Linked DNA regions of Homo sapiens. The main gene of each other region encodes a partner of the protein of the gene in region 2 in a complex. Each region holds a gene or a part of one and is shown on either strand. Other genes may lie near its edges. A codon is read from its position in the direction of its gene.

The links.
Region 1: the proteins of ELMO1 (region 2) and RHOG are in contact, whole or in part, in a crystal structure (PDB 7Y4A), measured with the Homo sapiens proteins. Residues at the interface, in NP_001193409.1 of Homo sapiens: Lys9, Val10, Ala11, Glu13, Tyr18, Pro19, Leu21, Met22, Ala54, Asn71, Gly72, Ile74; in NP_001656.2 of Homo sapiens: Val36, Phe37, Asp38, Trp56, Tyr64, Arg66, Leu67, Leu70, Ser71, Pro73, Gln74.
Region 3: the proteins of ELMO1 (region 2) and DOCK5 are in contact, whole or in part, in a cryo-EM structure (PDB 8JHK), measured with the Homo sapiens proteins. Residues at the interface, in NP_001193409.1 of Homo sapiens: Ile7, Val8, Lys9, Ala11, Tyr18, Pro19, Leu21, Glu23, Glu36, Asp39, Gly40, Ser42, Asn71, Gly72, Gln392, Asp393, Leu400, Glu401, Lys468, Arg531, Glu535, Leu536, Lys539, Leu547, Gln550, Gln551, Asn554, Arg555, Asn582, Thr688; in NP_079216.4 of Homo sapiens: Met1 (codon at 5,959), Ala2 (codon at 5,962), Arg3 (codon at 5,965), Trp4 (codon at 5,968), Val14 (codon at 5,998), Ala15, Ile16, Tyr17, Asn18, Ser22, Gln23, Gln30, Ile31, Gly32, Asp33, Thr34, Glu39, Tyr41, Gly43, Trp44, Arg46, Tyr48, Lys56, Ile58, Pro60, Glu61, Thr62, Tyr63, His65, Leu66.

What each region holds. Positions count from the first base shown.
Region 1 is NC_000011.10:3,837,960-3,848,743, forward strand, and holds the start of RHOG (rho-related GTP-binding protein RhoG), read right to left. Parts: upstream 3,001-10,784; 5' UTR 2,935-3,000; exon of another isoform or gene 2,609-2,934; intron 317-2,608; exon of another isoform or gene 108-316; intron 1-107.
Region 2 is NC_000007.14:37,436,107-37,445,864, forward strand, and holds part of ELMO1 (engulfment and cell motility protein 1), read right to left. Parts: intron 1-9,758. UniProt on the Homo sapiens protein: Involved in cytoskeletal rearrangements required for phagocytosis of apoptotic cells and cell motility. Acts in association with DOCK1 and CRK. Was initially proposed to be required in complex with DOCK1 to activate Rac Rho small GTPases.
Region 3 is NC_000008.11:25,178,951-25,189,528, forward strand, and holds the start of DOCK5 (dedicator of cytokinesis protein 5), read left to right. Parts: upstream 1-5,738; 5' UTR 5,739-5,958; coding exon 5,959-6,001; intron 6,002-10,578. UniProt on the Homo sapiens protein: Guanine nucleotide exchange factor (GEF) for Rho and Rac. GEF proteins activate small GTPases by exchanging bound GDP for free GTP. Along with DOCK1, mediates CRK/CRKL regulation of epithelial and endothelial cell spreading and migration on type IV collagen.

The DNA.
Region 1 (10,784 bases), on a different chromosome or scaffold from region 2:
CTCCCCCCATATGAGATGAGGACAAAAGAGGAAGCTGGACCCTGGACAGGAAAACCAGTCTGATCTGGGGAGGTGGCCCAGGCTTTGTCTTTGGTTTCCCTCCTCAGCTCTTGTCACGGACCCCTACTGACCTCACCACTAATGGGTCTACAGTATATAGAAGGAGTCTTCAGTGTGGGCCTGAGCCCCCTTCTTCATGTCACAACCTTGACCATACCTGTTTAGCCAAGACTTCAGCGGCAGCCTCCTAGGTTGTAGCCACCACCTCCCTTTACCCCCCAATATTTTCCCATTAAAATCTCTCCCGCCCTGGTCACATTTTTTCCAATGATGCCTTTTTTGCAATTAGCTCAAACTTCCAATGGGGCCAGATCTCACCTGGGAGAATCCCTGTCTCACCCATCTTGTCTTTACCATCAGAGCCCTGTGGGTTTGCTCAGTTACGCAGAATACTAAAGTAACTACTGGTTTGCCAGCCTAGGAACTGGGACTCCTGGGGTTTTTATTAAGCTGTGATGCTGGGAAAGTGCCTTGTATGCACATCCTTCTCTAACCTGGGCTCTTATGTAGGTCCCTGGGATTTCTTCCCGGACCCAAACTTCTGTACCTCCAAGAAATGGGAAGAGAGACAAGTGGTTGGAAGGGCAGGACTGGAAGAAGAACAATTCATGGGAGAGGGACGACTGTGACATGGGAAGATGACAGAATGGGGAACAGGGAGAGCCCTTAAATTTAGCTGTAGCACTTACTCCCCTCTACTTCTCTTTTTTTCTAGTGGAGAGAAATGAATACAGATGACTAGAGGAGGTAGACAGGAGCAAGATCCTCAGATGCACCCCAAAAGCTTGAGGATGGAGCTCTAGAGTGGAAACAAGAGCCTCCATAGCCAGGATGGACTGAAGTTAAATTTGGGAGGAATTCCTGAGAAGGAATAGGGTCCTAGGTGAGATGGGGAGTATTAAGGATGCCTGAAGGCAGAGGGGTCAGTAGAACTCCAGAGGGCTTCCTGGTCACTAAGGCCCTGATGCAGATCAGGGCATGCGGGTACCCAGCCTAGGCAGGCCCCAGAAGGTAGCAGGAAAGGAGCAGACACTTTTGCCTCCGCCGCTTCTTAAGTCCGAAGTTAGACCAGCTGCAGTCTTTCCTCCAGAATCCTGCATTTGCCTCCTCCCTTTATTTCCATCACACCCAAGCTGGTCCCATTCTTTCCACCAGGTGATGCTGGAACTAGTAGGTAATGGAGTCAGGGACCTTCAGGCTGTCTTCCGGCTTCTAGGCCTGGCCTCTTGGTCAAGCACCACGGGTTGGGGTGATTTTGATTTCCCACGGCCTCTCTTACAAGTCTTATTCCTGTGTCACCCTACCCTGACTGCTACAAACGGCTTCCTCCTGCCTAACCACAACCTCACTCACTGCAGGTTCCCTTCATTCTGCTGGCTTCCCTTGCTCTGGGCCCTCTCAAGGCTGAGGGCAGTTATTTTGTCTGTAAGAGATAAAGATGTAGTCACACAGACACGCGCGCGCGAACACACACACACACACACACACACACACACACACACACAGGCTTTCCATCTCTTTAATCCATCTCTAAGAGATGAAGATGTAGATACACAGACACGCGCGTGCGAACACACACGCAAACACACACACACACACACACACACACAGGCTTTCCAGCTCTTTAATCCGTCTCTATCACTGGGAGGCTGCAGACTGCCTCTCCAAGCTAGGGAGGTTTGAAAAGACTCTAGAACTCACTAAGTCTTCAACAACTGATTCCAAAGCTGGAGATAAGTGGGTGGGAGGGAAGGATACAGAGAGGGTGACAGGCTGAGGGTTCAAAAGGAATGAGGGGTGATGGAAGAAACCAGGAGGTGCATGTGTGTGGGTGCCAGAGCTGGGAAGGGAAGGGATGGGGCAGGTTGCAGAGGACCAAGACGAACATGGGGCAGGGTAGGTGAAGACAGGTCAAGGCCTAGGTATGACCGTATGTTTGGAGGAAAAGAGACTGGAAGGGATGAGAAGAGAGTGATGGCGGATTTGTGGGTAGAAACTAAAGAAGGTGTGGAGGGAGACGACAGGAGCATGTGTATAATTCAGGGACTAAGAATGAAGAGGAACACTAGGAGATGGTTCTCAATTGTCCCCAAAAGACACAACAAAAACTTGTCAGGGACTATCAGTACCTCTGAATGAGAGTCCTTCCACTTCCAGTTACAGGGCAAGACCAAGTTACTCCCAAAAGAGCAAGGCCAGGCTCTGGTCAGCTAGGAACAGCGTCTGCTCACTAAATACCTACTGCTTGGCTCCAGGTAAGGTCGGGACTCAGGAAAACAGACATACAGACAACGACTGGGGTCGGCGGGGCTCCCCCACCCAACCCGGGTCCTCCTGAGTGCAGAGGGCCTTGGGGCTGCAGACCGAGTGTGGGTCTGTATTAGCATCCATCTGACAGGGAGAGAGCTTTCGGAGGCCCCAGACACCGCCCCTCTCACCCCAAGTGTCACAACTGCCAGAGCAGAGGGAGCGCCTTTTCCAGCCCAGAAGCCCTCTCCCCTCACGCACTTCTCAACACCCCCCCCACCAACTTCTGAGGACACCCCACCTGCGTCCGATCTCCCAGCTCTGAGCTCTTCCACTTCAGAGACACTTATCTTGGAGCCCGGGACCCTCCGACCTCAGGGGTCCCTCTCGGCTCCCTAGAGGCGGTACAGCCGCCGGGAAGCCACCCTCGCCGAGCCTCCGCCGGCTCGCAGTGGCCCCGTTCCCGCCCCGCCCGGCCGGCCGCGCCCGCCCTACTTGGACTGAACCGAGAAGCTCCCGCCCGCGGCCTCCGCCAGCAAACTCATGAGCCGGCGCCCGCGCCGAGTCCTGGGCCGGCCGGGCTCTCCTCCCCCGGACCCCTACCCGCCAGCCCCGGCCGGGCCTCACCTGGTGCCCTCCCCGAGGCGGGGGAGCTGGGGGCGGCGGCAGCGGCTCCGGGCTCGAGAAGGAAGTGAGAGCGGGAGGCCGGAGGAAGTGGGGGGGGCGGGCCGGCGAGGCGGGGCGGGCCGGGGCGGGGCCCGACCAGGAAGTCCGAGGGCCGATCTCCCCCTCTCCAGCCCCGGCCCGCCCCCAGCCTCGCCCCCGGCCCAGTCCCGGGCTTGCCACGTTCCCCTCCCAGTCCGCTGCCCCTGCGGTCAGTAAGTCAGGCCTCCCAAGGTCAAGTCTCTCCGCCTCCTCCTGGCCACCCTACCCCTGGAGGCCCTACCCTGGGCGCTAGGCGTTCGTCCTCTTCCCCCCATCCCGCCCCCACCAGCCTCCGCGGGAAGATGCTGAGAAAGGCGCCCCTGGGCCTGGTCCCTTCAGTCAACCCCAGGGATAGAGTGGTGGCCGAGGCTGGGGCAGTCCCCGCCCCTGCCCTGAGCCCCGGGGGAGTGCGAGGTGGTGGTGATTCAGCAGTGGGAAGGCCCCAGACCCCTGGGGAGGGTGGGGAGACTCGGGGGGAAGAGGAGCTGGCGTCAGCACCCAAGGGAAAGACAAGATCAGCAGAGGCGCAGGCGGAGCCGCGGGCCCCAAAAACAGGATGTCGAGTCGTCATTCAGCACCGTGCAGCCCTGCGAGGCCTGGCTCTGGGGAGGGGGCGGGGCGGACGGAGGACTTGGGGCTTCCCTCGCCCCCTCGCCCCCTGTTCTGCTGGGGCGCGCAGCTGCTTGGGGCTGAAGAGCCGCACCCAGGCCTGAGGTCCAGCTTGGGCCCCGGCGACCCGCGGGTGGGCGGGCTCATGGGCGCCCTCTGGTGCTTCGCTCCCTGGCTTTGCGCTCGGAGCTTTGACTTGAGAATCCATATCCTTCGTTCAGCACAAAGTTTCTGAGCGCCTACCACGTGGAGAGAGCTAAGTGCTAGGTGCTGTGAAGAAACACAGCGTTTAAGACAGGATCCCTGTCTTCCAGAAGCTTTTCAAATAAACGGATTGATTCCAGGAATAAATAGCTTAACCTTTCTGAGCCTCAAATCTGTCTTTGGTAAAATAGAATAATTATATTTCACCCCGTAGTTTTGAAGATAACATGAGAATGGGTGTAAAAGACCTGTTGTCAATGCGTATCTCAAACACTAAACAAATATCTTTTAAAAATATCATACCCTAAGAGTCTGGCGCGGTGGCGTCTGCCTGTAATTACAGAGATGGTGAAACCTTGTCTCTATAAACACAAACACACACATATTTTTTGACAGTCTCACGATGTCACCCAGGCTGGGGTGCAGTGGCACGATCTCGGCTCACTGCAATCTCTGCCTCCCAGGTTCATGCAGTTATCCTGCCTCAGTCTCTCGAGTAGCTGGGGTTACAGGTGCATGTCACCACACCCGGCTAATTTTCGTATTTCTAGTAGGGACGGGGTTTCACCCTGTTGGCCACGCTGGTCTCGAACTACTGATCTCAGTTGATCCACCTGCCTTGGCCTCCCAAAGTGCTGAGATTACAGGCGTCAGCCACCACACCCAGCCTACTTATATTTTTAAAAAAATAAATAGGAACCACGTAAGTAATTTAAAACTGTCTATTAATGACATTTCAAAAAAAGTAAAAAGAAACGAAATGAATTTTAACTATATTTGACTTAGCCATAGCCAAAGTATTATCTTTTTTTTTTTTTTTTTTTTTTTTTTGGAGATGGAGTCTCGCTCTGTCACCAGGCTGGACTGCAGTGGCGCGGTCTCTGCTCACTGCAACCTCCGCCTCCTGGGTTCAAATGATTCTCCTGCCTCAGTCTCCCAAGTAGCTGGGATTACAGGCACGTGCCACCATGCCTGGCTTATATTTGTATTTTTAATGGAGATAGGATTTCACCATGTTGGCCAGGCTGGTCTTGAACTCCTCACCTCGTGATCTGCCCGCCTCAACCTCCCAAAGTGCTGGGATTACAGGCATGAGCCACTGCGCCCGGCCTCAAAATATTATCTTTTAGCATGGTAATCAACATAAAAATTACTGGTTATAAAAATTAACTGGATATTTTGCATTCTTTTCTTGTACCAAGTCTTTGAAATGCGGTGTGTATTTTATACTTACAATTTGTCTCAATTTGGCTGGAAACATTTCAAGTGGTCAATAGCATGTGTAGCTGGTGGCTACTGTATCATCCTCAAAAACAGAGGCTTTATCAGATTCAGGCTGGTGAATGACTGTGTGGATGAAGTCTTTCTCAAAGATCCTTCTCTAGAAGCCTCCCCTGACCTGCCAGGCAGTGTTTGGGTCTCTTGTCTCCTCTTCGGTCTGGTCCCTGTAGCCCTTCAGACAAACTCCTCTTTGTGGAGGACATGAGAGCAGGAGGCACAAGGGGAAATTCTCATTCCCATCCATACACCATTGGGACCACTTGACATTGGGGTGCTTGGTATTTCATGAATAAAGAAAGGATTGTGAGCCCCAGAAATGACAGGGTTCAGAGGAACACCATACGCTAAAGCAGCTTCTATGACGCCATTAAAGATTATGTCCCAGCACAAAAGTTTTTTCTGGTTTGTTTGTTGTTTTTTTTTAGATGGGACTCTCACTATGTTGCCTAGGCTGTCCTGGAACTCCTGGGCTCGAGTCATCCTCCCACCTCAGCCTTTCAAGTAGCTAGGACTACAGGCACACACCACCACATCCAGCTCCAGAAGAAATGTTTCTGATATGTGTTCCTAGAATTCCCTTCCCAGGACTTAAGAACAGGAAAAACAGTGGAGCTATGGACTCTCTCCCCTTCAACCAGAGAAGGTTTGCTTTTTATCTGATTTATTTACTAGTATTCTGCATAGAGAGTTTAATTTTGTTTTTAAGTTTCCTGCAAAAAATATTTGAAAATCAATTTAAGGACATAGTGATAAGAGTAGGGAGCACATTAGGTGCTGCAGATTGAAAGACTGGATTGGCAGCCTGGGATCAGATTGCATTTCCTGAGCCTGTAAGTGTCTTGGGCTTGCCTAGCCCTGGTTTAGGAGGGAGAACCTGATCCAGCCTCAAAGATCTCATGGTCTGATGAAGTATAGGACTTTGCATATGAAGCTATCAGAAGAGGAGGAAAAAGTCCAAGGCTGGGCTTTAGAAAACCTTCAAGTCTGGCCTGGCACAATGGCTCACGCCTGTAATCTTAGCACTTTGGGAGGCTGAGGCAGGCGGATCATGGGGTCAGAAGATCGAGACTATCCTGGCCAACATGGTGAAACCCCGTCTCTACTAAAAATACAAAAATTAGCTGGGTGTGATGGTGCATGGCTGTAACCCCAGCTACTCGGGAGGCTGAGGCAGGAGAATCACTTGAACCTAGGAGGCGGAGGTTGCAGTGAGCCGAAATCGCGCCACTGCACTTCAGCTTGGCGACGGAGCGAGACTCCATCTCAAAAAACAAAAAACAAAAAAAAAAAAACCACAAACAAACTTGAAGTCTGTCTTGGCTCAGACAGACAGATTGAGATTTTAGGCTAGGCCCCACCCTTCTCTGTCTCAAACTCTTCCACTGGAAAACAGAGGTTGAACTAGATGATACCTTTGAGCTCTCATCTTCTATGATACACTCTTCAGAATAATAATTAAGGTTTATGCATATAGCATGTTGCTCATAGTTCTTTAATACCATTTAGGTCATCATGCTTTGTGCTCTAGTAAATTGCATCTGTGCCTAATATCTGTCTCCCCCACTGACTATAAGTCCTTTGAGGTTGCGTCTGATTCATTTCTGTGTCCACCCACTGGGCCTGACAGAGGCAGGCCTGAGCACACATTTGCCTTCACTAAACATCCATAATGTTAAATTGCTTTAATAAAGTACTAATATGTGTAGAACAATCAGACTCCAGGTAACTTGGAAACACTTTTGTGGCACAGGTATGGGAAGGGCCAGAGGAAAGGGAAGCAGGTGGACAGGTGGAGCTGTCCGTAAAGGCTTCTTGAAGGAGGAGAAATGCTGACTTGAAGAGGGTAGGAAGAGGGCACAATCCCAAATGGGCTGTTTCTTTTTTCTACTCTCTCACTAGCTTTCCCTGAATAGGTGAGTTCTTGGTAGGTGGTGTGCATGTATGCTTACAAGCAGCTGAGAGACAAGGACATTGAACCTGGACATTTAGAAGTGAGATAATATGAAAGCACTTGGTGGGGTAGAATAGAGATCACAGACAGGTTTTGGAGACAGATTAGGATGGTTGTAACACAGTATGGCCTTTGATTAGTCATATGAGATCTCCCATATTCATAAATATTCAATGTATATTTATTGAAAATCTTCTTGGTGCCAGACATAGTGTTACATGCCAATCATGAAGTAGAGAAAACTGCCCTGATATAACTGGTAAGGGAGATAGACCTTAAACAGGTAATCATACAAAAGTAGAGTGCTGCTGGGCATGGTGGTGTTTGTCTCCAGTTCTAGTTCCTCAGGGGGATAAGGCAGGAAGATTGCTTGAGCCCAAGAGTTTCAGACCAGCCTGGGCAACATAGCAAGAACATTTCTCCAGAAAAAAAAGTACAGAATACTGTAAGAGCATATAACAGAGCCAACTTCTCAGTCTTAGTTTCATTTTAAAATGGGAATGGCTGGGCGTGGTGGCTCATGCCTCTATTCCTAGCACTTTGAGAGGCCAAGGTGGGACAATCACTTGAGCCCAGGAATTTGTAACCAGCCTAGGCAATCATAGCAAGACCCCATCTGCATACACACACAAAAATTAGCTGGGCATAGTGGCACATGCCTGTAGTCCCAGTTACTTGCTAGGCTGAGGTGGGAGGATCACTTGAGTCTAGGTGTTTGAGGTTGCAGAGAGCTATGATCATGCCACTGCACTACAGTCTGGGTGACAGAGTGAGATCCTGTCTCTAAAAACTAACAAATAAAAAACAATAAAATGGGACTGGCAAGTGCTGCATGAGATTGTGAGTATTAAACGACATAATGCATGTGGAGCCCTCGTAAATTGCCCTAGGGTACAGCAAATAAACATTAGTTAATTTCTCCACACTCCCTTGATGTTTTCAGGTATCCCCCCGCCCTTGGTTAATTCTTCCCTCTCTCTCAATGTCAAAATGCTAAAGCTGACTAGTTTCCCTGAGAGAGGAGGGGACAGAGAGTGAGAGGAGAAAGGCCCTGAACTGATCTCACCAGTGCCCTGAGGATTCCAAAGGGGTCTTCCCAGCCTATTCCTCACTGAACTCCAGCTCCAGGAGCTCACCAGTGATCCACAGGGGTCTTGGCTTAGCCCCAGTCCCAGCCCCTTTAGGTTACCCTTAAATCTGAATTCTCTTTTGCCTCTGCTGTGGCTCCAGGGGACTCAGCCTTCTTGGGGCTCCTCTTGATCCTTTGGTCTTCCCTCTCTCAGCCAGCCTCAGGAGTAGAACACAGTTTCCTCTTCATTATTTCTTTTTTTTTTTTGAGACAGAGTCACCCAGGCTGGAGTGCTGTGGCACGATCTCTGCTCACTGCAACCTCTGCCTCCTAGATTCAAGCAATTCTCCTGCCTCAGCCTCCTGATTAGCTGGAATTACAGGCATGCACCACCACGCCCAGCTAACTTTTTCTATTTTTAGTAGAGACAGGGTTTCACCATGTTGGCCAGGCTGGTCTCGAACTCCCGACCTCAGGTGATCCGCCCACCTGGGCCTCCCAAAGTGCTGGGATTACAGGCGTGAGCCACCGTGCGTGGCCTTTATTTTATTTTTTATTTTTTGAGATGGAATTTTGGCCTGTAGCCCAGGTTGGAGTGCAATGGCACGATCTCAGCTCACTGCAGCCTCCACCTCCCGGGTTCCAACGATCCTCCTACCTCAACCTCCTAAGTAGCTGAGATTACAGTTGCCTGCCACCCGCCTGGCTACTTTTTTGTATTTTTAGTAGAGATGGGGTTTCACCATGTTGGCAAGGCTGGTCTTGAACTCCTAACCTCAAGTGATCCACCTGCTTCGGCCTCCCAAAGTGCTGGGATTACAGGCATGAGCCCCTGTGACTGGCCTCCTTTTCATTACTCCTCTTTATTGCTGCCCCCCAAAACAAGTCCAATATCCCATTTTGTGGGCTTTGATGGGCCAGACAGGAGACAGCAGAAAGAACTAAAAAGAGGTGACAAATTAAACAAAGTTCTAGAGTCACAACCTCTGATCTTTTTTCTTTTTTTATTTTTTTTCTTTTGTTTTGGAGATGGAGTCATGCTCTGTCGCCTAGGCTGGAGTGCAGTGGCGCAGTCTCGACTCACTGCAACCTCCACCTCCCAGGTTCAAGCCATTCTCCTGCCTCAGCCTCCCGAGTAGCTGGGACTACAGACGAGCACCACCACGACGGCTAATTTTTGTATTTTTAGTAGAGATGGGGTTTCACCATGTTGGCCAGGCTGGTCTTGAACTCTTGACCTCAAGTGATCTGCCTGCCTCAGCCTCCCAAAGTGCTGGGATTACAGGCGTGAGCCACCACATCTGGCCAATCTTTTGTTCTTGACTCTCTCAAGGAACTAAATGGATGAAGGGTGTGTGGACAATGGCCATGCCCTATTTTCCAAGAGGGTCCCTTCTCCCAGGCAGGCAGAACAATAGTTGTCCCGTTAGCCTCCAGGACAGCTTTGCATCTTTGACATTTTCTAAGCCCAGTGGTAGTACCCACATCATCTGGCATAATGCCCCTCTGGGAAAGTTCTCCTTCCTCAGTCCTGGTATTCTAAGAGCAACCCAACTATAGCTGCCCAGTTGATTCGGGATTCCCTGGGGAAATTTTCCCCAATTCTCATCTTTGCCATTTACTTGCTGTGTGATCCTGGAGAAGTTGCTGAATAATAATTTAGGAAAACAACTTAGATATGTTTTACATATGCTTTACACGTATTAACTCAATAAATATAACAAGTCTATAAGGCAGGTAATATTATTTCAATTTTACAGATAAGAATACTCACAGATAGGCCAGGTGAGGTGGCTCACGCCTGTAATCCCAGCATTTTGGGAGGCCGAGGTGGGTGGATCACCTGAGGTCAGGAGTTCAAGATCAGCCTGACCAGTATGGTGAAATCTTGTTTCTACTAAAACAAAAAGTACAAAAATTAGCCGGGCATGGTGGTGTGCACCTGTAATTCCAGCTACTCGGAGGCTGAGGCAGGAGAATTACTTGAACCAGGGAGGTGGAGGTTGCAGTGAGCCAAGATCATGCAATTTCACTTCAGCCTGGGTGATAGAGCAAGACTCTGTCAATAGCAAAAGCAAAAACAAAAACAACACAAAACAAAACAAAAAACCTCACAGATAGCAAAATTGAACGTGTCAGTTTTAATTTCCTTTGTAAGATGAATCTAAATTGTGTTACACCTCAGGATTGCTATGGATATTCATTATATGAGATAACATGTAAGCTCCAGGAGGGCAAGAAGTTTTGCTTGTTTTACTTAGTGCTATATTCCTAGTGCCTAGAACAGTGCCTGGTATGAAAATACTTTGCTCAGTAAATATTGGTTGAATGAATGATTGAATGTAGCACGTTTAGCATAATATCTAGCAGACAATAGTATCTTCCAAAACCACAGCTATTATTTAAACTTGATCTGTCTTGCCTGCTCACCTGGTCATCTAATCAATCACCAAATATTTCGCAAATCTGAACACTTTTCTATTCCCGTCATTATTGTCCAAATTAGACTTCAGGTCTTGTCCAAGGTCACACAGCGGTGAGCTGGGTTATCAGTACAGGTCTGTCAGACCATGTCACTTGTTTCCAGCTTCTACCTTTTCCAATACTTTCTCAGCACTATTGCCAGAATAATTTCTGCAAATCACAGTTACCTGATCT
Region 2 (9,758 bases):
TGTTTGAAATCACTTTTAAGCTGCTAGATATTTTGGTAAGAACATAACTCTCCAGTGAGTTACTGTAGATCTGTATTTCATTATCTAAGTCTTCTTATGGGTCTTTAAACATATATTTACCATTGGATTCTATTTCAAGGTACACACCAATCCTGATATATAGAAAAGAGGCGTTGCTACACAGCGGACACTGTAGTTGCTGAATAACCCATGTTTACCACTCTCCTAGGTAAAATAAAGTGACCAGAAATTTTTCACACTGAAGACTGTATATTTGTCAGGTCCAATGAAGATATGCATACAGCCATTAGACAAGTGATTTTCATGACTATAGTAATGGAAGTCAAGGTGGAGACCAAAAGTTATCACTTTCAAAGCACTAATTTGGAGAAGCAGTTTCTGTTTGGCACATGGCTCTCTGACACCCATACTTCTATCCAGGGCATTTTAGTGTCTAGATGAAGGTTTCTCTCTTTTCAACCCACTCCTTAAAAGCTGTTACTAAGTGACTGTTTAATGGGTACATGAGCTACTGCTTAATGAGCTGGTGTGCCTGTAAGCTAGTTGCTGCCTTTCTGAAGAAGCAATAAGTAGAAAAAGCACCCAAACAAACCGGCCACATCCAGAGAGAGCGATTGGAAATGGAAGCAGGTGGCTTCCACTTAGGTGGCCATAAAATGAATTGTCCAACCCACTGCACTTGGAAAGTGAAAGCTGGTGTAATTGAACGTGCTGGGACAATGGGGCCACACTGGGTCTGTACACTTGGGACTACAGACATTCTTCTTTTATTTTTCTATTTTTATTCCCAGGATAATTTCTAATCTGGTTGACAGCTTGATCATCTGGCTCAGATTAAAGAAGAAAATTTAACAATTTACAACCACCCACCTGCCAATGAACATTTCAACAGTCCCCTACTTGGTGGAAGGTTCCAAACGATTGAAAAAGGGACATTTCCAAAGCATGAATGGACCCATTGAACCTCCTTTATATGCAACATAATCATATGAAACCCAGTTCAACTGAATGAAATTCCTGACAATTGCTCCTTCACTGTTACTCCAATGACATGGGGTTTCTCCCAGGGCCCCTGTGCACCCTTGGACAAATGCAAACAACCTCAAAAGCTGGAATCAAGAAAAGGGAAAGAGCTCCAATGGAGCCATCTCCATTCTCTCCCCTCAAAGTAAAAAAAAATTAATAATACAATAAAACAGTAAAATCTCAGGTTAGTTCAAATGGAACTGGGGATACACATTAGAAGAGCTTTCATTTGAGGACCCTAAATTGCTAACTTCAGTCATTACATCAGTTATTTTAATTCACAGTCAATCATAACTCATCCCCGTCTGTATTTTAACAGTTGGTACTTCTCCTGTACTGGTTTAAGTTTCATTTTTAATTAACAAATAGTAATCATTCATATTTATGAGGTACAATTGGACGTATTGATACATGTATACCTAAGGAATGATCAAATCAGGCTAATGAACATATCTATCACTTCAAATATTTAGCATTCCTTTGTGGTGGGAACATTTAAAATCCCCTCTTTTAGCTGTTTTGAAATATACAATAGGCCGGGCGCGGTGGCTCACGCCTGTAATCCCAGCACTTTGGGAGGCCGAGGCGGGTGGATCATGAGGTCAGGAGATCGAGACCATCCTGGCTAACAAGGTGAAACCCCGTCTCTACTAAAAAAATACAAAAAAAATTAGCCGGGCGCGGTGGCGGGCGCCTGTAGTCCCAGCTACTCGGGAGGCTGAGGCAGGAGAATGGCGTGAACCCGGGAAGCGGAGCTTGCAGTGAGCCGAGATTGCGCCACTGCAGTCCGCAGTCCGGCCTGGGCGACAGAGCGAGACTCCGTCTCAAAAAAAAAAAAAAAAAAAAAAGAAATATACAATATATAATTATTAACTATTGCCACCATGCTGTGTAATAAAATCACCAGAACTTATTCCTCCTGTCTGACTGAAACTTTCTATCTGGGTTTGACCAACATCTCCTCTTTCCCTGCCAACCCCACCTTTCCTCTTGTTTTCTTGAAGAAAAGACATATAAAGCAAACTAATTCTAGTCAAGACTTTAGGAGCAGTTACCTAGGTCACTTGAAGAAAATTAAATACAAAATGCATCTCTTTTTATGATTTCAGCAAGATAGTTTAATAAAGAACCTGAATAGAAACTACTGAATCGGGCCGGGCGCGGTGGCTCATGCCTGTAATCCCAGCACTTTGGGAGGCCGAGGCAGGAGGATCACGAGGTCAGGAGATCGAGACCATCCTGGCTAACACAGTGAAATCCTGTCTCTACTAAAAATACAAAAAAAAAAAAAAAAAAATTAGCCGGGCGTGGTGGCGGGAGCCTGTAGTCCCAGCTACTTCGGAGGCTGGGGCAGGAGAATGGCGTGAACCCGGGAGGCGGAGATTGCAGTGAGCCGAGATCGCGCCACTGCACTCCAGCCTGAGCAACAGAATGAGACTCTGTCTCAAAAAAAAAAACACTACTGAATCAGTGATAATAACCTCAATAATAATAGCAAATCCAACCCAACGCTTTTAGGGTACTCTACTTTACAATCATGATTGCATTTAATCATCTCAGCTACTCGAAGAGGTGGGGACTTATATTACCTACACTTGAAAGATGTGAAAACTGAGGCTAAGGAAGATCACTAACTTACCTGAAGTCACCCATCTGCTGTACTCAACAGGAGATCTGAACCCTCCATTAACAAGTATGTGCTTATGGCGCTTTAAACCTCAAAGACTCCTTCTCCTTTTTCCCAAATCCAATCACTTAGCAAATCATTTAATTTTGTCATCAATATCTACAGGCAAACACGGTGAGTGCTGGCCTCCCCTCCTTTACCTCTGCTCAGACTCTGGCTGGCACCCGCTGGAAGGCGGGGGCTGGACAACCTGTCTCCTAGTTGCATTGGCACAGCAAGCACACTGCTTTGTTTATTTATTCATCTGACCAAGACCATGTATTTATTTGAGCAGGCCTAGCAGGAGCTCCCATCTTTCCTCTGCCCCTCCCTCCAGCTGTACCATCTAATCTATCCTCCAGGTTGCTCTCACTGGAATGCACTGCATCTTTTCCTTGCCTAAAAGCCTTTGGCTTTCCTTTCTGCTGAATCCAAATGCCCAGCTCCTGGGATTGCTGACATAAAGCCCCTTCCAGACTGTCCTCCATCACCCTGATTGCTATATTCCCTGGATGTATCATATTCTTTCTCTTAATACTCAGCTTTCCAGATCTTTCTCAAAAGTCACCTCATTTGTGAACACCTACCTCTGTGATCTGCAATCACGGTAAACATACCTTTAGCATACTGTTATGACTGTCTCTAAACAGATTTGCCTGTTACAGCCCTCCCTACCCCTTCTCCACATATGGAGTGCCCAGGCTACAGCATACAAATTACAAGCAAAGTGGCTGTTGACTGACTTGAATGACTGAATGAAGCATTATGATCAGGGCTATAAGCCCAGCAATAGTTTAGCTTGAAAATATTTATATACATTTTAAGGATAAGCTCAACATCTGTTTTTAAAATATACTACAATTAATAAATAAAGCTTTACTGTGCTTCTCTCATATAAACCCAAGCAAATGTTTCTCAAAAACCTTCAGTTGGAGAATGGACAGTAATTGAGAAAGTAGTTCTAATGAGTCAAAGTCGCTTCCTGGCAGTGGAGTAAGCCTAGAGATGATGGAAACATATTCATTCCTTGACAAAATGTTTAATTTCATGTGATTTGTGCTGACTTACTATAAAAGTGACAGCACTGGAGAAAACAGGATTTAGCAGCTGATATAATTGTTTCTTTGCTTCTAAAGGCCTTTCATTATTAGAGCTGCATGGGTGTGTGTGTGTGTGTGTGTCTTTCTCTCACACACACATATATGTACAAAGCACTTATTATTTAATATATCAAAGAATCGGTCCCACTCCCCCAAACCAAAATTTCTGAGTAGTGGTCACTTCCCAGAGTGGCCCACAATTGGAATAACTGAGGCACAAGTCCACTATAAAAAAATCTAGGGGCCAGGCACAGTGGCTCATGTCTGTAATCACAACACTTTGGGAGGCCAAGGCAGGCGGATCACAAGGTCAGGAGTTCGAGACCAGCCTGGTCAATATGGTGAAACCTTGTCTCCACTACAAATACAAAAATTAGCCAGGTGTGATGGCAGGCACCTGTAGTCCCAGTTACTGGGGAGGCTGAGGCAGAAGAATCACTTGAACCCAAGAGGCAGAGGTTACAGTGAGCCACGATCGTGCCACTGCACTCCAGCCTGGGCAACAGAGCAAGACTCTAGCTCAAAAAAAAAAAAAAGAAAAGAAAAGAAAAAGAAAGAAAAAACAAAGAGGCTGGGTGTGGTGGCTCACACCTGTAATCCCAGCATTTTGGGAGGCTGAGGCGGGTGGATCACGAGGTCAGGAGTTTGAGACAAGCCTGACCAACATGGTGAAACCCCATCTCTAATAAAAATACAAAAATTAGCCAGGCATGGTGGTGGGCATCTGTAATCTCAGTTACTCAGGAGGCTGAGGCAGGAGAATCGCTTGAACTCGGTTGGCAGAGCTTGCAGTGAGCCAAGATCGCGCCACTACACTCCAGCCTGGGTGACAGAGTGAGACTCCATCTCAAAAAAAAAAAAAAATCTAGGAAACTGTGGGGTGGGGAGAGTTGGAGGGGTGGACGGGAGTCAAATAAAAACCAGCCTTACTGAGTGTTATTGGAATTCACTCCTCACTTGACCAAAAATGAGCAATCTGACCAAACTCCTCCACTAGCTCTACCTCCCAAGCCACATGCTTTCTGAGGGCCAAGGGTAAAGCCAGCTGTGGTTACGCATTTGGGCTAAAGAGACCAAAAACAAAAAAAAAATTATTTTGAAATGGATTACTCTTCAAAATTAAGGGTAATTGTGTGTAGCAGCCTGGAAAATACAGCTCATCCAGCTCTGCCACTGAACCCCACAGCACAAAACTCTGGCGTTCTAAATGCAATTCTGAACTGAAAAAAAAAAAAAGACACAAAGGGCGGAAGGAAGGGTGGAGGGTTGCTATAGGGCTGGTGAACTGTAAGAAGGCGGCTGCCTAGGGGAGTCATAGCTAGTCTATAACCCAGCATATTTCTACGGCACTTAAGCCACTCGATGGTGTTCTGGACTACGACAGCAGCCAAGCAGAGAAGGTAAATAAAAGGCTGACAGATAATTACATAAGAAAGTTAACATGGCAAGATTAGGACAGAAATCTAATATACAAAGTGGGAAAGGACTTCGCATAAAGCAGTACCTTGAAGGCTTCTCCCTGACCTGCTACAATGTCCTGGTCGCACTAATGGAATATCAATAACCATTACTATCCAACTAGTCAAGGTGGATTTGACAAGCAAAGGAGGAGGCACTGAACTCACTTAACTCATTCCCACACAGACATTTCCTTTGTCTTGTGACAAAGGCCTCTGAACAAGCCAAGCTGAGCTTTGCTACCCACCTCCCTCATTTCATTTATCTTATTGCCATTATGTAAAGGTTACAGTTAAGGCAGTAACCAGTGGTCAGAATTCAAAACGTTGTTAAGAAACTGAGACAAAAACTCACTAGTTACAGTGTTTTTCAGCCACAGGTACTAGGAAGAAACATGCATGGAAAGGAAACTTGAAAAACATTTGGATTAGAGAAACAACTGCAGTATAAGAGAGAAGAGAGCTAGAAAGGAAACTTGGAGAGCTGGAGGAAAGAAATGAACATAAAGGGTGAGCCCTCTCATTTATTAATACACCACCTTAGACTCTAAGGAATAACCAGTAAGGAGAAAACTGGGGCACTTATAACTGCTGTTGAAAGTCTAGACTATCTGATAACACACAACTGGTCTCACTAACACAGGAAGACAAAGCAGCAGTTCTCAGCTTGGGGACAGGAAAATTGATAGGACAATCTGCAATACCTGGAGACATCTGGGGTTGTCACAAACGACTAATGTACTGGCATTAGTGAACAGAGGCCAGGGAAGGCAGTAAACATTCGACAGTACACAGGACAGCCCTTACAACAAAGGATTATCCAGCCCGAAATGTCAATAGCACTGAGGCTGACACTGCCTGAAATAATGGGTCAGTAAAATGGCCAACAGCCTACAAGTAGAAAAAGAACCGTACAAGTAGCCTCAGCATCGCCCAAAGGAGAAACCATCACGGTCAAAGGACTCCAGTCTCTGGTTTTCTTAGTTGGTATGAATCTATCAACAAGAGAATTAGCAAAAGTTATGAGGAGCTGGAAAACACTGTCAAGTATATTCCCCTTCCAACTGGTTCCTTCCCAGGTGGTTCCATGCTTTTGCCTTCACCATGACTCATCCACAGAGGAAAAATGTTGGCTAAAGAATAAACGCCCATTCTTCTTGGCAAATACTGTTCTCATTTTTTATTAATAAATTGCATTCTAGCTCATATGCTTCAATATCATGAGGTTGGCTGATGGACATACTGTCCCTGAGAGAAGAATCCATTGACTCTCAAAACTAAGGTCAACTTTAGAATGAGATACCCAAAGAGAGGGATTGACTCTGAAGAACTAGGACTCAGTGGCAGCATTGACATCCCTGGATACCATGGCAACCCAGGGCACATCCATCTGCAGGACATACAGGAGTGAAGAGCCTCTCTGGACACCACTGCAGCATAGCTCCACATGGCATCCTGGCCTCAGAGGCTGGCAAGTCCAGTGAACCAACAAAAGAAGGAACTAACCAGTGCAGACATCATGGTGCAGGAGAAAGAAACAACGCAGTAAAACGAGTCAGAAAAGTTGGGTTTAAGGCTCAGATGCACTCTCTAAGTATGCTTGTGACATTTCATTCCTCCAAGCCACATCTGTAAAATGGGATAACAATACTATTCTGACTGTTCTCCATCATTTCCAAAACAGCATCCCCAGAGGAAGGGTGTGTCAGGCCACAGAGAAAAATGTCGCATTGATCCTATGACTCCACCTCCACTGAGAGAATGCTTTATAGGGCTTACCTGATTTTCATTCCCTCAAACCACCATTCCCTATCCAGAGTACAACCCACTGAACACATCTCAGTCCTTAGTCCAGCAAGTTGTGCCTCTCCAGTGTTTTCTACTGAGGAAAGTTTTGTTTTCTACCTTAACTGTTAGAACTAAAACAGTCAAAACTGTAGCCTCAATTCCTAAAATTGAAGTTCCAATAATAATTCTGTTCAGATTCTGGAAATCAGTGTTTGTGGGGGCCCGGAACACTGAGAATCGTCTCCTTCTATTTATACATGTGACTAATTTCTCGACTCAGCACTATGCCAGTTTGTTACTGTAGTTAATTCTGTTTGATGAGCTAGCATTCCTTCTCCCACACGTATTCCTATCTGATACTTAACTGTTCACCCCACCTTAGGCCAATGACCAAATTCTGCTCGTACCGTACCTGCACTTATATTGTAACAGGTTAGAAAATACAGCACTAAGACACAAGTAGTTAATGTAATCAGGAATCATGATATGGCTTTGCAGGCTTTAGTTCTGGCTAATATAGATAAGTTCCAATTGTTAACACTCAAACAACCCAAATTATCCAGGGAAATAAGCATTGCAACCAGTGTGTGCATTGTACATGCAGGCTGGCTTTGCTGAACCTAAAAATGCTGTGCTGGCATACTGGAAGGCTTTCATGGCCACACACATGGTCCTGGGAGCCACACCCTGTGGAATGACTGGCCTTCATGATCCTTTTATTATGGACAGTGCAGAAGTTCTCAGACTCTTTTTTTAAAGAGATGGGGTCTTTTTCTGTCCCCCAACCTGGAGCACCGTGGTGAGATCACAGCTCACTGCAGCCTCAGACTCCTGGACTCAAGCCATTCTCTTGCCTCAGCCTACCAAGTAGCTGGGACTACAGGTGCATGCCATCATACCCAGCTAATTTTTTAACTTTTGAGAGATGTGGTCTCGCTATGTTGCCCAGGCTGAGTTGTCAGCCTTTGACTTTCTTCTTTGGATAGCCAATCCAAGCCCAGGTCAGCTAAAATGCTTCACCTAATCATGCATCCCAGCAGTGTGGCTGCCTCCAGAAGAGATTACAACTGTCTTTGTAATTAGAATCATTCATGTGGGGAACACTAGATGTAAAATATGAAAGGAGAAGTTGAGCAGAGTAAATTTCCAAAGACCTCAAAAGTTCTAAACTAAAACTTGGTGAGAAAAGGGGATAGTCTGTCGATTTTATTCTAAGTAAGGTTAAAGAGTTATTGCAAAGGGAGCTACTGCCTTTCTGCATCACTAAAGTGAAAAGCATGTCACTTGAGTTTCTAGTTCCTCCAAGATGGCAGCATGAGGGCCTAGCGCACTGGCAAGTTCTACAAATAGTGGCATTTTTTTTTTTGAGATGGAGTCTTGCTCTGTCGCCCAGGCTGGAGTGCAGTGGCGCAATCTCAGCTCACTGTAAGCTCTGCCTCCCGGGTTCACTCAATTCTCCTACCTCAGCCTCCAGAGCAGCTGGGACTACAGGCACCCACTACCACGCCCGGCTAATTTTTTTTGTATTTTCAATAGAGACGGGGTTTCACCGCCTTAGCCAGGATGGTCTGGATCTCCTGACCTCGCAATCCACCCGCCTCGGACTCCCAAAGTGCTGGGATTAGAGGCGTGAGCCACCGCGCCCGGCCAATAGTAGCATTTTGAAAAGTTAAGTCAATAGCCGACAGAACTGCATCTGGTTCAACATTTGGAAATAGCATCTCCTGCAGGGGGTTAAACCAACAGTATTTTGTTAAAAGGAGATAGCTAAGTATTTCTTGTAGCCCTCTAGAACGTCGTCATCAGAATCCCTGGCAAGTTGGTTAAAAATGTAGTTTTCCCCAGAATTATTGAAACAGGCTTTTTAAAATCGTTACCTACACTGAGCAATACTTTGACATTAAGACTGGGTGTCTGTTTTATGAAATGCTGTTTTCCACACCACTCTTCTCTTTCACATTTTAAACTGCTGGTCTTGGCCTACTAAAGTGATATCATGATCCGCTCATGGGTTACAGCCGTAAGCTTAAAAAGCACTTCTCTGGTTGACTAGAAGGAACCAGAACTAAAGTTGCACAATTAGTAGCAAACACTCCAGGCTTTGTGATGCAGAGAGGGTTTCTTAATCCACCACGTTTTCCAGATTCAACAGAATGTCTTATAAACCAAACTATCTACTTGGATGGTTTCAGGCACCAAAAAGTGGTTACAAGCTTGAGTTACAAACCTTAATTGTATCCACTGTCTTAGATCTGGAAGGGAAATGTTACCTCCATAGGAATGATCACCTTTAACCCTTGAGCATTAGGCAACCTGATGAAGTAAGCACAGTGTGTGATCAGGTGAGCTCCTTGCCTCACCCCCAGCCACATCCTTCAGCAAAGGCTTCAAAGCCCTTTCCCCACCCGCCCCACCCACTCACACCAAACACCCAAAGGGGTTAAATTACTTTGAAACACTCAAGAGTTAGCTTCTTTTCAATATAGTAATTTAGTAAATGTTCAAGACTTAGCTGCACCTGCAGAACACCTTAATGTTTTCTCACTTTTATTTTTCTTCTCCTAGGCATTTCTCATCTCCCCTGCATCTGCCACACAGCCTCCCTTACAGCCTCCTGTCTTCACTTCCATATTGTAGGAGAGCAGAATGGGACACAGTAGATGCCTCTGACTTCAATCCCCTTACAATCATGCCCTTCCT
Region 3 (10,578 bases), on a different chromosome or scaffold from region 2:
GACAATCTAATTATTTTCATTTATGCCTACATTATACATTTTCCACATTTCTTCTAAGTTTTCATCATCTCTCTTTTTGTTCTTTTTTTTTTTTTTTTTTTTTTTTGGCAGGGGGAACAGGGTCCCCCTGTCACCTAGGCTGGAATGCAATGGTGCCACATCAGCTCACTGTAACCTCCACCTCCTGGGCTCAAGGAATCCTCCTACCTCAGCTTCCTGAGTAGCTGATACTACAGACACACACCACCACACCCTGGTAATTTTTGCATTTTTTGTAGAAACAGGGTTTTGCCGTGTTGCCCAGCCTGGTCTCGAACTCCTGGGCCCAAGTGATCTGCCCGCCTTGGCCTCCCAAAGTGCTGAGATTACAGGCATGAGCCACTGCGTCCAGCCCATCATCTCTTATTTTAAACAGTTTTATGAATATAATTTTTCAATGTATATAGGAATCAAGACATACGGTAAATAAACATAGTTTGTTTTTTTTAAAATCAGGTAGTTTGATTTCATCTCACCTAAATATGGATCTAGTTTTCAAGAAACTAATGCCTTCTTACTGCTCACATCATCCACCTCTCCCAACAGTGGAATCAGCTCATTTAGACACAGCAAAGAACATTCCAGAAACAACACTAGAAAAAAGAATTTTCCCATGTTCATGAAAAGGGTAAATCATAAGTATAAATCTCCTTGTGACAGAGATGAGGAGATAATAGCATTGGAGCCCCGAGCATTATCTTCCCATCCATCAGAGAAGCCGGACCCCCACAGCCACATGGCAGAGCCTGTGCAGACTCAGAGATGCTCACGACCTAAGTCACTTGCAGAGTGGAGAGTGAATAATGATGTTGGAATCCCTGGGGCCTATGAAAAGGTACTTCTGGGACTAGGGTGATTCATGGTTTCCTTTGTCCTGCTAAGCTCATGGGTCCCAGAATTACAATGTATCACCTACTCCTGGCTTACTTAGAACCATCCTTAGGAGCCTGCAAAGCACTGCTTAGAACCAATTACATTATTTGCATTGTTATCATTTTTTTGGTAGTTCCATTAGCCACTGACTCGTATAGGATCACAGAATAATCTTCTTTTATCTAGAGAGAGAGAGAAAAAAGACACTTTAAACGACTCCACAGCATCTCATAGAGAAGCCATCAGACCAGCCTGATTTGGCAAAAACAAGCCTGGTAATCAACAGGGAGGTGAGGCTCTTGCCAGTTCTCTTCACATCCTGTCCATTTATTCTCTAAGGCATTGTAAGGGTTAGTCACAATACTCATGTCAAACTAACCCTCAAAGCCACTTACCCTCATTTCTTTCTCCATGGCTCCTTCAAGCAGAGCCTGTGAGTGTCTGTGCGTGCTTAAGTGTGTTTGTATTTGTGTGGGTTTTGGAGTCTGAAGATCTCTGTGGAATATGCTTAATGTTTCTTCTGAAAAGATATCAGAGGAAAAAAAAAGGGTATTTCTGGGCATCACGCTGTCATTCCAACTGCCTGTCTGGTTAACTGTCTAATTTTAAGCCTCATTCTAATAAAAGACTTTGAAAAGCTCTGCTTTTATGATTTAAAAGGACATTCACACTAGGATTTAGCCATCTGATATAGCAAAGTGAGTGGATTTCAGTTTTCAAAAGGAAATGATAAACATACTGAAAGCTGTAATTAAAATTTTCCATTTTCCTCCAACTCTCTTAAAGCCATTGTCAAATTTGAAATCTCTGGCACCCAAATTCAAACCTCTAGTTTTGGAAGAAGAAGACTTCAATGCAAAAGTGGGATGAGGCAGTTGAAATCGCTTTGGTAGAAACCCAGTTCCACTGGATAAGAGCATTAACATTCTGATGTATGGTACATTTGAAATATACCTTTGGTCAGAGAACAGAGGTCATCCAATTTCCCTAAGCACGGAGAATTCATGTAACTTTGAGAAGCCCTGAGTCCACAACAGGCAAGTCATATAATCCAGTGCAGAGCGCTTTAGCTCCTAAGGGGCCACATGGAGAAGTTGCTGAGGAAGGCGTGAAGAAGTGGGTCCTAAAGAAATATTGAAAGGAAAACTTTGATACAGAGCAACTGGGACAGGAAAGGGTGAAGACAAGATAGATATAAATGGTGACCAAGACAATGGCAACTCTACTCCCTTGCTATTCAAGCCCCAAACCTTAGAGTCACTCTTTTTGTTTTGAATTAATATTTGTTTAGAGACAGGGTCTTGCTATGTTGTCCAAGCTGAAATGCAGTGCCAATTCACAGGTGCCATCCCATTATTGATCAGAAGGGGAGCTCAAGAGAGGGTGCCACCTGGAGCCTGAGGCAGTTCAAATGTGAAGTCCCGGCTACGGGATCTTTGTCAATAATGCAGTCAGTGACAGAGAAAAGACAAGGATGCATCCAGTTGCTTTCTACACAGGGATGCTCTCTGGGCTGCTGGCTGGTTGGAAAAGGGAGGTCTTGGGGTAGATTTCCCCCTGGATATGTGGGCCTGAATTTCTTCAGCTAAGGAGGAGTACCGAAGTTTTGGGATATAGGACTTCCAAATTAGGGCTTTCCAAATAATTGACCCGCTCCATTTCTGACCTGGACCAGTTCACCCCTCCTTAGGCAACCTGGTGGTCGCCTGCTCCCAGGATGTCACTATATTGATGCGGAACTTAGTGCAGACACCTGATCAGCATAGCTCACTGCAGCCTGGAACTCCTGGGCTCAAGCAATCCTCTTGCCTCAGCCTCCCTAGCAGCTGGGACTACAGGCATGTGCGACCTAGCTGGCTTTAGAGTCATTCTTGACCCAGCTTGTATCTCACATGCAGGGACAAGAACCAAGGTGTGTGGGGCCTGAAGGGTGTACGATACGGGTAGGGCTCTTTAAAAAAAAAAAGAAAAATACAAGCATATCTCTTTCTGGGGGAAAACTTTCCAAAAAAGATTGAAGCCTCACAGTAGTAGATCCCCCTGCCGTTCATGTGGCCCTCCTCTTGGTTCTTTTTCATGCTGTGATGCAATCATAGCTCACTGCTAGCCTCGACCTCCTGGGCTCAAGCAATCCTCCCACCTCAGTCTCCTGAGTAGATAGGGCCACAGGCACAGCCACCATGCCCAGGATATATATATAGTAGAGGAGGGTCTCACTATGTTGTCCAGGCTGATTTTGAACTCCTGACCTTAAGCAATCCTCCCACCTCAGCCTCCCAAAATGCTGGGATTACAGGTGTGAGCCACCACATCTGGCCAGGCTCTATTTTCACGTATGTCAAGAACCCAACATCTTTTTCACCTCCATCCTTATCCTCCTGGACCCAACTACCTTCATGTCTTGCCTGAATGACTGAAATAGCCCCCAACATCCATCCATGTGGGCCTCCCTTGCCCCTTTACAATGGATTCATACCACAGCAGGCAAGTTCAATATGTTCCAGGTTGGCTCAAAGCCCTCCAAACCTCGCTTGTAGTAGTAATATATAAAGTCCATATGCCTGCCAGGGTTCTGCTCTATCTGGCATTCCTCTGCCTCTTAGACCAAGTTTCCTCTCACCTGTTACTCAGCTCTCATTACCTAGGATCTCTGGGTGACCTGGGAACCTGCCAAACACGCTTGGTGTCCTTTGCCTTTGCTGTTCCTCTTTTCCAGAATACTTTCTCCCGGAATCTTCACTTCCTTCAGGTCTACACCTCAACCTCAGCTTAGCAGAGCTGCATTCCCAGACCACTCCATAAAAACAGCAGCACCCTACACGCCCTATCCTCCCTGCTTTGGATTTTTCTCTAATGTTTACTCTCGTTTGGTGTACATTTCTTTACTGTCTTACTCTCCCCGTCTAGACTAGAAGCTCTGTGAAGGGACACATTCTACTGTATTCACCGCTGCACCCTCATTCTTAGAGTGATGCCTGGCACTTAACGTGTAGGCATTTAATATGTGTGTGAAGAAGGAAGAAGAAATTACCTAACCTGGGAAATTAGAATCATGATATACTAATGGAGGAAGATAAATTATTTTAGGGAAGATGGTGGAATTCTTTCTGGATGTCAAGTCTAAAGTGACAGAGGAATTTCTTAAATTATTGTTAAACATTGTGAATAAATACCTATTGGTTGATGGAGAAAAAAAAAGCCAGCTCTAGTAGTTACCCACCGTGAATAGGACTTAAAAAAAATTTCAGACCTCGTTTGGTAAAAAACCACCAAAGTTAAAATGCACTAATTCTCCAATGAAACTTTACTATCTTGTTACCTTGTTTGCCTATCTATCTTTACTGTCTTTTTTTTTTTTTTTTTTTTTTAGACGGAGTTTTGCCCTGTTGCCCAGGCTGGAGTGCAGTGGCGCGATCTCGGCTCACTTATAGCCTCTGCCTCCCGGGTTCCAGCGATTCTCCTGCCTCAGCCTCCTGGGTAGCTGGGATTACATGAGCACACCAGCACGTCTGGCTAACTTTTGTATTTTAGTAGAGAAGGGGTTTCACCATGTTGGCCAGGCTGGTCTGGAACTCGTGACCTCAGGTGATCCACCCGCCTCGGCCTCCCAAAGTGCTGAGATTACAGGCATGAGCCACCACGCCTGGCCAACTACCTGTCTTTACTATCTTTACTACATGTTTGTCTTCCTTTCTTTTATATTCCTAAAACGCATGAAAACCTTCACAGGCTGCAAGGAGGATATAATTTCTCTCTAGAGGAATCTTCTTCGAAGGTGAACGTAATTAAGCTGGTCATTTACTCTACTTGCAATGTTACTTCTCGGTACAAGGTAGGGAGAAACCCCTGGATCTTCATTCTCCAAGTCTCTCCAGGAAGAAATGAATTCCAAGAGGGGAGCTCCAGAGAGGGCGCCACCTGGAGCCCAAGGCGGTTCAAATGCGCAGCCCCTTTGGGATCTTCGTCAAGAAAAGGCAGTCGTTGACGGAGAAAAGACGGGGATGCGCCTTGGCCCTTTCTCCACGGGAATGCTCTCTGGGCTGCTGGCTGGTTGGGAAAGGGAGGTCTGGGCATGAGGGTCTAAGTTTCTTCAGCTTAAGGTTGGGGGGTCCCCGGAGTTTGGGGATACAGGACTTCCAAATTAGGGCTTTCTAAACAATTTCCCTGCAGAGGATCCCCTAGCAAACGGTCTGATACTTCTGAGGAGCCCACCTCCCTTGCACCAGCTCTCCGGTGATAAAAGTTCTGCTTTCCAGGCTCTAAGCGGTGGCCCCGGGAGATTCAGTCTGCCCTGAGTCCGGCTTCTCCCGCTCGCGGCGCGGGTTCAAGCTCCAGGGGGTGAAGGCAGAAGTCAACTGCTCATTCATTCAACAAATATTTATTGCGCGCCCGCTTAGTGCCAGGCACCGGAGGTGCCCCGAGCAAGAAGCCGCTCTCGCTGATCCGTTTCCGCTCCCCAAGTGTCCGGCGCGCGCCGTGGGAGCGCAGCCCGCATCCCTCGCCCACCGGCCGCCCGGCCTGGGCGTGCCCGGCTCCTCCAGCGCAGCCCTCTGTCGGGAGCCGGACCCCCGGGACCCAGCCTCCGGGGTATCAGCCGGGTGGGGAGGGCGGGAGAAAGGCAAAGTGCCGCCAGCGTCAAAGTCCCGCCGGCCCAGGAAGCCGCTCCAGGGAAGCGCGCGAGGCGGAGCCGCAGTCGGCCCCCGCCCGGCAGAGCGCAGAGAGCGGCGCGGGCGGGAGAGGCCGGGCGCCCGCGGCTCGGAGGCGGCCCCGGCGGGCGGAGGGTGCGGCCGGCGGGAGGGACTGGGGCGGCGCCAGGAGGGGCGCGCACTGCTGCGCTGCAGCCCGGCCCAGCAGGTGACCGCGGGCGGCGCGGGCACGGGCACGGGCGCGGGCGGCGCGGCGAGGAGGCGGCCCGCGGAGTCCAGCGAAGTTTGGCGGAACATGGCGGAAGCGTCTGGGGCACGCAGGAGCGCGGGGCGGCGGCGGCCGGAGCCCGAGGAGCTGTAGCAGCCTTAGTCGCCGCCGCCGCGGGGCGAGGTCGCCGCCATGGCCCGCTGGATCCCGACCAAGAGGCAGAAGTACGGGGTTGGTGAGTGCGCGCCCCACCTTGTCCCGGCCCGACCCACGCGGCCAAGTTCGCGGACAGCGGCCCTGCCAGGTTTGCGCAGAGCCCGGCGGAGGACCCTGGCCGGGGGCTCGGCCCGGCTGCGCAGCTCTGGGAGCCGGGGACGGTAGGAGTCCTCTCCAGGGAGCGCCGATGGGGAAGTCGCCCAGGGTTTGGGGACTCCGAGTGCTTCCAAGTGCAGCTGAGCTTCGGGACCGTAATCCCGCTCTTGCATCCCAATCTCCGGCACTTCACACCAGGGAAATGTCAACGCGAGGGGGGCGCGCCTGCTGCTCTTTTGGGGCCGCAGCTCTGTGGCTCGCCCCGGTGCGCCCAGCGTGGGTTTCACCTGGGAGTAGGTGACCAGCCCGGGTCGGCACATGGACTGGTGCTCATTGTCCCAGTGCTTTCTGCCCCCCGCTTTCGTAGGTTCTTCTCAGACGCCCCTTAAGTGAGGAGTTGAGGGTGGAAAGCCGCCCTGCCCCCTTTCCTCCAGAGACTGGGATCTTGATGACAGTTGTGAGCTGGATGGAAACTAGAGTCGTGGCGTGGAAGTGATGGAAGGGACAGGAAGTTGTGGCACGGGAAGGGGGTGGCTGGCCCCTGGGGCTGTTTGTGCGCACTCATCCCCTAACGGAGCCTGTCTGGAGAGGGTGTAAGGCTGCCTTCCGGATCCTGAGTTTCATCCTGGAGACGAGAAGAGGACATTTTATTAAGGAAACTGTGCCAGACCCCGTGCTGGGCACTTGGCATTCAGAACAGCGGTGCTGGAGAGCCCCGGGTTGTGCGCAGGGGTTGCTGGTGGTGGTGCTTTGGCTCCGAAACAATAGATGTGCGGGGATTTTGACCCAGGTGGAAAGTCAGGCTCCTTTGGCTTTTTATCAAGGATTGAAGTTATTGAGGGCCTGTGGGAAGACTTCTGCCCTGAACGGGGTGATTACAATGGCAGTTAGACCTGGGGTGATTCCCTACAATAAACACGGCTGAGTGTGTTGCGAATTTTATCACTTCCTCTCAGATCCATTCATTTGGCCTGTTTGTAATTTAGTCTTTGACTTTACTCCCTTACTGAGGTCCTGTTTTTCCTCACCTCACTGGTTAATGAAGTGCAGTCTCAATTAAGAGCTACTCAACGTGTCTAGGGGCTTTTCAACTCTGTAGCCAGGAGTCAGGGTTTTTTGTTGTTGTTTGTTTTGTTTTTTAACAGTCTCATATTTACTATATTATTCTTAGGTTGTGATCCTTTATATATTTATTATTTTTTGTTTTCCCTCAATTCAAAAGACATTTTCTTTTTTGCTCTTAAGTTGCTTTTAGAATCTTAGTCTCTCCCTTAGCTGCATCTCAGAAATGGGTAGAGATGTTGCTTCTGCCTCAGGGCTCTTTTTTTTTTTTTTTTTGGTTTGTTTGTTTTTGAGACGGACTGACGAGGGAGTCTCACTCTGTCGCCCAGGCCGGAGTGCAGTGGCGCAATCTCGGCTCACTGCAAGCTCCACCTCTAGGTTCCAGCAATTCTCCTGTCTCAGCCCCCCTCCCCGAGTAGCTGGGATTACGGGCTTGCATCACTACACCTGACTAATTTTTGTATTTTTAGTAGAAACCAGGTTTCGCCATCTGGGCCAGGCTGGTCTCAAACTCCTGACCTCAGGTGATCCGCCTGCCTCGGCCTCCCAAAGTGTTGGGATTACAGTCATGAGCCACCTCACCTGGCCCCTAGATGAAAGCATATTTACAATGCCCAATCACTACAGAAATGTTATCAACTCTAATTTTATCAGGATTAAAAGCTCTTTTCAAAACTATTCAGTTGAGGGTAATTAATGCAAACATGTTTCAAAAATGTGGTTTTTATTGCCATAGTCCTAGGAGCAAGTATAATTGTTTTTAATATTTTGTTTTTATGTTCTGGAGTCAGTTTACTGTGTCACTTATCAGTCAAGAAAAATATTTGGGCCAGGTGCGATGGCTCACGTCTGTAATCCCAACAATTTGGGTGGCAGAGGCAGGAGGATTGCTTGAGCCCAGGAGTTCAAAACTAGCATAGCAACATGGCAAACGGGTCTTTACAATAAATACGAAAAAAATTTAGCCGGGCATGGTCGCCTGTGCCTGTGGTTCTAGCTACTGAGGAGGCTGAGGTGGGAGGATAGCTTGAGCCTGGGAGGTTGAGGGTGCACCGAGCCCCCATCACGACACTGCACTCCAGCCTGGGTGATACTGTGAGACCCGATCTCAAAAAAAAAACTATATATACATATATATACGTATATATATATATACACACACACACACACGTATACACACACATATATGTATATATGTATATACATATATATGTATATATGCGTATATGTGTGTGTGTGTATATATATATGTATATGGAAATATGGGTGGAAATTGTGTGTGTGTGTGTGTGTGTGTGTGTGTGTGTAAAATATTTGGATTGCATTTCCAGGGCCTAGGTGTTAGGGAAACTGCTCCAGGATATAATTCTGAACACTTATTTCACCAGACATAGATTCTGGTTTGTCTGGGTTTGACAAAAGGACCCACAGTTGGGATAAATTAACTGAAGAGAGAAATCTCCATTGCTTATTGCTAAAACTCATTGTTTTTGTCACCTCCTTGCTTATGTTTATGTCACCTCCCTGCTTGGAAGTCTCTCGTGGTCAACAGGATAAAGTCTGAGCCTCCGTTCCAAGGTTCCTATAATCTGGTTCAGCCTATCTTCAGCATTATCTCTCGAGGCTTCTTTCACTAGCTCTCCAATGCAGACCAACTGCCCTTCCCACTGTTGTGCAACATACCCTGCAGAGTCCCTCCTTTGGGACTTTGCTCCCATTGTGCCTGTCCCTGCCAGGAGTGCCCTCCCAACTCTGCCTCAGACAGCTCACCTTTCCTTGAGGGCTCAAATCCATTCCTACTCCCTTCTTCAAATTTGCTATTTGTCAGACTGTCCCAAACCTCCTTGCTTCTTCCTCGCAGTTCCTGGACTGTGCCATCCTTGGGTTCAGTGAATCAGACCATTGTGGTTTTGTATTCCTAGCACTCAACAGGTGTACCAGGTATTAGTGCATTCAGTTTGCTTGTCCTTGATGTTGGGGTGCCGTTCTAAAGTACACTAACCTAGCTTGTCTGGTAATTGAATGCAGTTTTTTCCTCTTCTTTTTCTTCCCATTAGGCATAACATCTCATTCACCCCAATATGAGTTGAATTTTGTTTGGTTAGATGGAGGAAGGGAGAGCCTCCACTCTGTCTTTATCTCTGCAAGTAAGAGAATGAGATATTCTGCTGAGAAAACAAGGAAGCATGGAGCAGACAGACTTTCTTAAATATAGTTGGGAAAATTGGCTTTCTGGACTTCTCTAAGTGTGTACTGGTCAGATTTGGTTTCTGGATGAAGGAACCGTAGGATAGTCATGTTGAAGCATTTGGATGACTCAGAGCTAGCTATGACTTTGCCTGTTGTGCTCTAAGAGGAGTGTGCCTCTGCAGAGCTAGTCTGTGTGAGGATAGAGCTTTGGACTCAGTATGAATTGTGCCTGCTGAAGCTGGCAGTCGCTACTGTCATATTTTATCTTGGTGCCACTCTTGGCTGTTCCTGACATATCCTAGATGTTTCTACAGGGACTGAAATGCAGCCTGTCTGGGCTTTCTTAGTTCTTAAACAGCAGTGTTGGCTCAGGCTCTAGCATTAAGTGGATCTCAATGGTTTCTGTGTGTTATCAAGTGAAGTGACTGATCTATTTGATTCTTTAAACTTATGGTGCTCTAGTACCCCAGTGTTAAGTGCTCAGTGGCTAAGTGTTCTTCCCTGGAGACGTGGAAAATGTGCTTTTTTCTCATCTTTTTTCTTTCTTTGTTTCTCTTTTCTCTCTCTTTTTTCTGTTTGAGCATATGAAGATATAAAACACTTTTAAGCAAACATTAGTGATAAATATCCAGAATAGTCTGATTATAAAAACATTTATTTTTAAGTTTGCTTCCACACAAGCCATTATGTAAAGAATAGCCCCAGATTAGGTTGACTATGGATTCTTTGCAAAGCTTTTTTTTCTTTTCTTTTCTTTCTTTCTTTCTTTTTTTTTTTTTTTTTTTTGAGACAGGGCCTCACTCCACAGCCCAGACTAGAGTACAGTATGATCATAGCTCACTGCAACCTGCCATCTCAGCCTTCCAAGTTGCTGGAACTGCAGGTGTGCACCACCATGCCTGGCTTAAGTTTTTTGATTTTTTAAGTTTTAAAATATTAAACTTTTAAAATAATCATTTTAAAGATGGAGTCTTTCTATATTGTCCAGGCTGATCTGGAACTCTTGGCCTCGTGTGCTCCTTCAGCCTTAAGCCTCCCATGTTGCTAGGATTACAGGGGTGAGCCATGAGCCTGGCTGATTTTTTTTTCTTTTCTTCTGAGACAGGGTCTCGTTCTGTAACCCAGGATAGAGTGCAGTGGCAAAATCATGGCTCACTGCTGCCTCAACTTCCTGGGCTCAAGTGACCCTCCAGCCTCAGCCCGCTGAGAGCTGAGAGCTACAGGTGCGTGCCACCACAACCAGTTGAT